Homo sapiens: one gene and its partner. The protein of the gene in region 1 interacts with the protein of each later gene in a pairwise test. Each region holds a gene or a part of one and is shown in the gene's direction. Other genes may lie near its edges.

The links.
Region 2: the proteins of APEH (region 1) and LGALS8 interact in binary tests that used the Homo sapiens proteins (3 or more experiments, as listed by UniProt).

The regions. Positions count from the first base shown.
Region 1 is NC_000003.12:49,672,488-49,676,399, forward strand, and holds the start of APEH (acylamino-acid-releasing enzyme), read left to right. Parts: upstream 1-1,914; coding exon 1,915-1,926; intron 1,927-2,001; coding exon 2,002-2,134; intron 2,135-2,695; coding exon 2,696-2,822; intron 2,823-3,206; coding exon 3,207-3,300; intron 3,301-3,403; coding exon 3,404-3,479; intron 3,480-3,568; coding exon 3,569-3,732; intron 3,733-3,890; coding exon 3,891-3,912. UniProt on the Homo sapiens protein: This enzyme catalyzes the hydrolysis of the N-terminal peptide bond of an N-acetylated peptide to generate an N-acetylated amino acid and a peptide with a free N-terminus. It preferentially cleaves off Ac-Ala, Ac-Met and Ac-Ser.
Region 2 is NC_000001.11:236,547,692-236,551,603, forward strand, and holds part of LGALS8 (galectin-8), read left to right. Parts: exon of another isoform or gene 1-270; intron 271-320; coding exon 321-470; 3' UTR 471-3,210; coding exon of another isoform or gene 3,211-3,299; 3' UTR 3,300-3,912. Other genes in the region: HEATR1 (HEAT repeat-containing protein 1), read right to left, coding at 3,211-3,299.

The DNA.
Region 1 (3,912 bases):
TTTTTTTCTTGAGACGGAGTTTCACTCTTGTTGCCCAGGCTGGAGTGCAGTGGCATGATCTCGGCTCACTGCAACCTCCACTTCCCAGGTTCAAGCGATTCTCCTGCCTCAGCCTCCCGAGTAGCTGGGATTACAGGCGCGTGCCACCCAGCCCGGCTAATTTTTGTATTTTTAGTAGAGACAGGGTTTCTCCATGTTGGCCAAGCTGATCCCGAACTCCTGGCCTCAGGTGATCCACCCGCCTCAGCCTCCCAAAGTGCTAGGATTATAGGCGTGAGCCACCGCGCCTGGCACTTTTTTTTTTTTTTTTTTAAGATGGACTCTGGCTGTCGCCCAGGATGGAGTGCAGTGGCGCGATCTCGGCTCACTGCAAGCTCCGCCTCCCGGGTTCACACCATTCTCCTGCCTCAGCCTCCCGAGTAACTGGGACTACAGGCGCCTGCCACCATGCCCAGCTAATTTTTTGTATTTTTAGTAGAGACAGGGTTTCACCGTGTTAGCCAGGATGGTCTCGATCTCCTGACCTCGTGATCCGCCCGCCTCGGCCTTCCAAAGTGCAGGGATTACAGGCGTGAGCCACCGCGCCCGGCCGGCCGGGACTTTTTTTTTTTTTTTTTTTTTTTTTTTTACTTAACTAGTTATCTTGAGTAAGTAATGATGCGGCTGATGGGAAAGGGGAAGCTACAGGCCAGACAAGTGGACTCTCAATCACAAGCACGCCATGGAGCAGGGAGCCAGGGCCCTGAATGTGGAAGACCAGCCAGACTCAGGTATATGGAGGGAACATCCTTACTGTCCAGCCTCTCCTGATCTCTGTTGGCACCTTAGCCCAGCCAATCCTGTACCACGTGCACAGGGAACCTGCCTGCCTAGGTTTTTTCCACAGGAAGCTCCCTGGTCCTGGGTGGAGTCTGAGCCCACCAGGCCTTTCACACCCAAGAGCTCAGGGTGAGGCCTGGGGAGGAAGGCAGGGACCCACCAGCTCACGGTCCCCAACAAGGTGCCACTGAGAAGGCTGGGTAAAGGCTGCGGGGATAGATAGCTCTTGCGGCAGGCCTGGCGACTGATAAGTCCGGGCAGCACCCTAAGAGTTGGCACCCGCCCCTCTGCCCCGCACCCCAGGGCTTTGCTTCGCGCCCTCCGCCCGGACCCTGGCCCTTCTCTTCTTCGTCTGCGTGGAACTCCCTCCAGGGCAGGGCCTGGCACTGTGTAGTGAATGTCGGCCTCGTGGTGGACCCGAAGGAACCCTACAGTCAGCCCCAGAGCCGCGGGAGATCCACGCTGCGGCCGGCTCCGCCCCGCCCAACCCTCACCCTCACGCTCACGCTCACGCTCACGCTCACGCTCACGCTCACAGGCTCCCGGCTCCACATTCCTCGCAGGGCTCCAATCCGGACCCGCCCGCCTTGCCCTTCATCCTCAAAGACTCATTGGTCCCATTCCCCTCGGGCCCCGCCCTTCGCGTGCTTGGGCCATGCCCGTCCGACCGCGCTGCTTCCGCCTTGCAGCACCCCCTCAACCCCTTCTCTCGTAGGCCCTTCTACCCTCCCCGAAGCCGGGCTCCCGGGTTCCGCTTCCACAGGGCCGCCCCCTCTCCTCCGAGATCCAACGCCTCGCCCCTCGGTAAGAGGCCCAGGACTCAGCCCACGGCCCCGCCCCCCACTTGGCTAGTCCGCCCCTGGCGAGACCCCTGCTCTCACCCACCCAGGACTTCTCGCTCCCAGGCCGGGTCCTCTCACCGTCAAGGCCCGCCCCCTGCCAACGGTCCTCACCCATTAGCCGAAGGCCCCGCCCCTCACAGATTGCCGCAGGGCAGGGGCGGAGACAGCCCGGGCCGTCCCAGGCTCCGCCCCCGGAAGCCTCACTTCCGGGCGCGAGCACGCCCCGCCTCGCCCCGGCGGCAGAGAGGAGACTATGGAACGTCAGGTGAGGGCTCGGCCCGCGGTCCCCGTGGTCCCTGCAGCCCGGGCCGGGCCTGACCCTGGTGTGTCCCCTGCGCAGGTGCTGCTGAGCGAGCCCGAGGAGGCGGCGGCTCTGTATCGGGGCCTTAGCCGCCAGCCCGCGCTGAGCGCCGCCTGCCTGGGCCCGGAGGTCACCACGCAGTACGGCGGCCAATACCGGACGGTGCACACTGGTGTGTGTGCGAAGGGGAACTGGCTGGCGACGGGGTCGCGCACTGGGGTGGGAAGGAAGGGGGTGTGGAGGGCTCGCTGCTTGACAGTGCGTAAGGGTATATAGGGAGCCGGCCTGGACTTGGAGGTTACACTCCCACAGGTCCCTGCACACAGGTGTGTGGAGGGGGGGAGGGGGCGTGCGGGGCGTTATCGAATGGCGGCCATGAGTGCACGAGATGACGGCGTAGGGGTAGAAGTCAAACCTGGGCTCAGGGCGTGGACCTTGTAGGGCTCTCCACCAACACGCCATCCCATACACATGCCAGGCTGCCCTCAAGATTCCAGGGTGGATGCTGGGGTTACTAGGGGGTTCTCTCAAAGAGGCTGTCAGCTCAGGCTCTGGAGGCCTGGACTAGGGTTGTGGCCAAGTGTTGTCCAGCCTGCAGCCAGGGTGTCAGTGTCTGGAGACAGATTGAGAGATTGGGGAAGATAGATCTAGGCCTTCCTGGGTCAGGTGGGGCTGGGGGCAGTAGCCAGGAGTAGCCAAGACAAGGTGAGCAGTCTCATGCCTCCCCTCACAGAGTGGACCCAGAGGGACCTGGAACGCATGGAGAACATTCGATTCTGCCGCCAATACCTGGTGTTCCATGACGGGGACTCAGTGGTGTTTGCAGGACCTGCAGGCAACAGTGTGGAGACCCGGGGGGAGTAAGTTTGAGGGAGGAAGCTTGTGGGCAAGGCCACAGCCGTCCGCAATGCAAGCCTTTTATGAATGCTCACCATGTGCCTAGAAGGGAGGCCAGCAGCCAGGTTCTTGCCCCCTTGGGAGCTCATTCAGTTTCTGGTGACATGGCCTGATAAGCACTGGAAGCTTGCTCCAAACTCAGCCTGGACTAGAGCCCATGGTGGCCTGGGGAGTTGCAGAGAGTAGAGTCTCTGCCTCAGGGAGGAAAGGCAAGGTGGGGCTAGAGGTGCTCCAGAAGCTGGTGTGGGGCCAGAGCCTCAAGAATCTCTCCTAAGAGGTGTGCCCAGTAGGGAGCAGGAAGGGGTTATTGCAAGATAATCCTGACCTGTGCTACCCCATGTCCACAGACTGCTGAGCAGAGAGTCTCCTTCAGGCACCATGAAAGCTGTGCTGCGCAAGGCTGGAGGCACGGGCCCTGGGGAAGAGAAGCAGTTCCTGGAGGTGAGTCTGCATGGGACCAGGTAGTGGGTGACAAGAGAGAGGCTCTGCCCCACAGATAAGGCTCTGTTAGCGGGCAAACAGCCTAATGCCCAGATGTCCTCAGGTCTGGGAGAAGAACCGGAAGCTCAAGAGCTTCAACCTGTCAGCGCTGGAGAAACATGGGCCTGTTTATGAGGATGGTGAGGCATCTGGCTGGTGAGCAGGCAGGGTGGACAGGAGGGGTAGCCGTAGCCCTGGGCCCCCCCTGATTGGCCCTCCCTGCACCCAGACTGCTTTGGCTGCCTGTCCTGGTCGCACTCGGAGACACACTTGTTGTATGTGGCAGAGAAGAAGCGCCCCAAGGCCGAGTCCTTCTTTCAGACCAAAGCCTTGGACGTCAGTGCCAGCGATGATGAGATAGCCAGGCTGAAGAAGCCAGACCAAGCCATCAAGGTGCTCGTGGTCAATCCACGAAGGCCCGGCAGGGCAGCCCTGGGGCTCAGTGTGCTCCCTTCCCATACTGTGCCTGTCAGACCTGGGGAGGCACTAGCTTTTAGGAAGCAGAGCAGGTCCTATAGACAGGCTGGGCATTGAGTATCTTGTGTTCTCAGGGGGATCAGTTTGTGTTTTATG
Region 2 (3,912 bases), on another chromosome or scaffold:
CTGGCTTTCCAGGAGCAAGGGGCAGGATGCGGCCGAGGGAGAGGGGCTGTGTTGAGGAAAGGAGGGCCGCAGGCCCTGGGGATGGTGTGAGGCTCCAAACATGTCCGAGTCACTTCCCTGGGTGGGATGAGGCAGACAGTGCCACCACCAGGGACACTTTAGTTAGATTAGGGTCTTGGAAGTCAGAAGGAAGTCAGCAGCAGCAGGCTGGAACTTTTCTATGTATAATCAAATGGTTTACTCTGACACCGTTAGCATGTAACAAACACAAAATTTTAAACTAAGGGGAACCACTAATGGCATGTATCCTTTCCTTTCAGATGATAATTTATTGTGATGTTAGAGAATTCAAGGTTGCAGTAAATGGCGTACACAGCCTGGAGTACAAACACAGATTTAAAGAGCTCAGCAGTATTGACACGCTGGAAATTAATGGAGACATCCACTTACTGGAAGTAAGGAGCTGGTAGCCTACCTACACAGCTGCTACAAAAACCAAAATACAGAATGGCTTCTGTGATACTGGCCTTGCTGAAACGCATCTCACTGTCATTCTATTGTTTATATTGTTAAAATGAGCTTGTGCACCATTAGGTCCTGCTGGGTGTTCTCAGTCCTTGCCATGAAGTATGGTGGTGTCTAGCACTGAATGGGGAAACTGGGGGCAGCAACACTTATAGCCAGTTAAAGCCACTCTGCCCTCTCTCCTACTTTGGCTGACTCTTCAAGAATGCCATTCAACAAGTATTTATGGAGTACCTACTATAATACAGTAGCTAACATGTATTGAGCACAGATTTTTTTTGGTAAAACTGTGAAGAGCTAGGATATATACTTGGTGAAACAAACCAGTATGTTCCCTGTTCTCTTGAGCTTCGACTCTTCTGTGCGCTACTGCTGCGCACTGCTTTTTCTACAGGCATTACATCAACTCCTAAGGGGTCCTCTGGGATTAGTTATGCAGATATTAAATCACCCGAAGACACTAACTTACAGAAGACACAACTCCTTCCCCAGTGATCACTGTCATAACCAGTGCTCTACCGTATCCCATCACTGAGGACTGATGTTGACTGACATCATTTTCTTTATCGTAATAAACATGTGGCTCTATTAGCTGCAAGCTTTACCAAGTAATTGGCATGACATCTGAGCACAGAAATTAAGGCAAAAAACCAAAGCAAAACAAATACATGGTGCTGAAATTAACTTGATGCCAAGCCCAAGGCAGCTGATTTCTGTGTATTTGAACTTAGGGCAAATCAGAGTCTACACAGACGCCTACAGAAAGTTTCAGGAAGAGGCAAGATGCATTCAATTTGAAAGATATTTATGGGCAACAAAGTAAGGTCAGGATTAGACTTCAGGCATTCATAAGGCAGGCACTATCAGAAAGTGTACGCCAACTAAGGGACCCACAAAGCAGGCAGAGGTAATGCAGAAATCTGTTTTGTTCCCATGAAATCACCAATCAAGGCCTCCGTTCTTCTAAAGATTAGTCCATCATCATTAGCAACTGAGATCAAAGCACTCTTCCACTTTACGTGATTAAAATCAAACCTGTATCAGCAAGTTAAATGGTTCCATTTCTGTGATTTTTCTATTATTTGAGGGGAGTTGGCAGAAGTTCCATGTATATGGGATCTTTACAGGTCAGATCTTGTTACAGGAAATTTCAAAGGTTTGGGAGTGGGGAGGGAAAAAAGCTCAGTCAGTGAGGATCATTTTATCACATTAGACTGGGGCAGAACTCTGCCAGGATTTAGGAATATTTTCAGAACAGATTTTAGATATTATTTCTATCCATATATTGAAAAGAATACCATTGTCAATCTTATTTTTTTAAAAGTACTCAGTGTAGAAATCGCTAGCCCTTAATTCTTTTCCAGCTTTTCATATTAATGTATGCAGAGTCTCACCAAGCTCAAAGACACTGGTTGGGGGTGGAGGGTGCCACAGGGAAAGCTGTAGAAGGCAAGAAGACTCGAGAATCCCCCAGAGTTATTTTTCTCCATAAAGACCATCAGAGTGCTTAACTGAGCTGTTGGAGACTGTGAGGCATTTAGGAAAAAAATAGCCCACTCACATCATTCCTTGTAAGTCTTAAGTTCATTTTCATTTTACGTGGAGGAAAAAAATTTAAAAAGCTATTAGTATTTATTAATGAATTTTACTGAGACATTTCTTAGAAATATGCACTTCTATACTAGCAAGCTCTGTCTCTAAAATGCAAGTTGGCCTTTTGCTTGCCACATTTCTGCATTAAACTTCTATATTAGCTTCAAAGGCTTTTAAACTCAATGCGAACATTCTACGGGATGTTCTTAGATGCCTTTAAAAAGGGGGCAGATCTAATTTTATTTGAACCCTCACTTTCCAACTTCACCATGACCCAGTACTAGAGATTAGGGCACTTCAAAGCATTGAAAAAAATCTACTGATACTTACTTTCTTAGACAAGTAGTTCTTAGTTAACCACCAATGGAACTGGGTTCATTCTGAATCCTGGAGGAGCTTCCTCGTGCCACCCAGTGTTTCTGGGCCCTCTGTGTGAGCAGCCAGGTGTGAGCTGTTTTAGAAGCAGCGTGTTGCCTTCATCTCTCCCGTTTCCCAAAAGAACAAAGGATAAAGGTGACAGTCACACTCCTGGGTTAAAAAAAGCATTCCAGAACCACTTCTCTTTATGGGCACAACAAAGAAACGAAGGCTGAAGTTCGCCTACCCAAAATGAAAAGTAGGCTTTACAGTCAAAAGTACTTCTGTTGATTGCTAAATAACTTCATTTTCTTGAAATAGAGCAACTTTGAGTGAAATCTGCAACATGGATACCATGTATGTAAGATACTGCTGTACAGAAGAGTTAAGGCTTACAGTGCAAATGAGGCGTCAGCTTTGGGTGCTAAAATTAACAAGTCTAATATTATTACCATCAATCAGGAAGAGAATAATAAATGTTTAAACAAACACAGCAGTCTGTATAAAAATACCGTGTATCATTTACTCTTTCTGCAGCTCTATACGATAGGCAGGAGAGGCTTATGTGGCAGCACAAGCCAGGTGGGGATTTTGTAAAGAAGTGATAAAACATTTGTAAGTAATCCAAGTAGGTGTATTAAGGCACCAAAAGTAACATGGCACCCAACACCCAAAAATAAAAATATGAAATATGAGTGTGAACTCTGAGTAGAGTATGAAACACCACAGAAAGTCTTAGAAATAGCTCTGGAGTGGCTCTCCCAGGACAGTTTCCAGTTGCTGAATAGTCTTTTGGCACTGATGTTCTACTTCTTCACATTCATCTAAAAAAAAAAAAAAAAAATCAAAATTAAAATCTGAGTCAGTCCGCCTGCCTCGGTTCTCATTAGTTTAATTCTTAATGCCTTGCACTTTCCGGCAATCATTCAATCAAAAGAGTGAAATGAAGCACATTAACAAAGCAGGAGGCGCCACGGACCGCCTCCCTCCACACCGCTCCTTCCGCCTTCATTCCTTGCCCACAGGCTTGCACTGGAAGCTGAATAAGAATCCCCAAAACTCAAACTTCCTAGGGATGCCACCCCTTTAGTAGCTCACACCTCCCCCCTCCAAGAGCTAAGAAACAAAGGAGAATGTACTTTTGTAGCTTAGATAAGCAATGAATCAGTAAAGGACTGATCTACTTGCTCCACCACCCCTCCCTTAATAATAACATTTACTGTTATTTCCTGGGCCTAAGACTCTATGTTCCAGAACTGTCACAGCTCCCCATGTCACACTCACTAGCTTGTGATCTTTGTCAAATAACTGAAATCTTTTAAGCCTCTAGTTTCTTCCTTTGTAAAACAGAGATAAAATGTTGTGGTTTTTAAGTGAGATAATCCAAGTAAAGCACCTAACATGGAGTAGTGAATGAACATCGGTTGCTACTAAAAG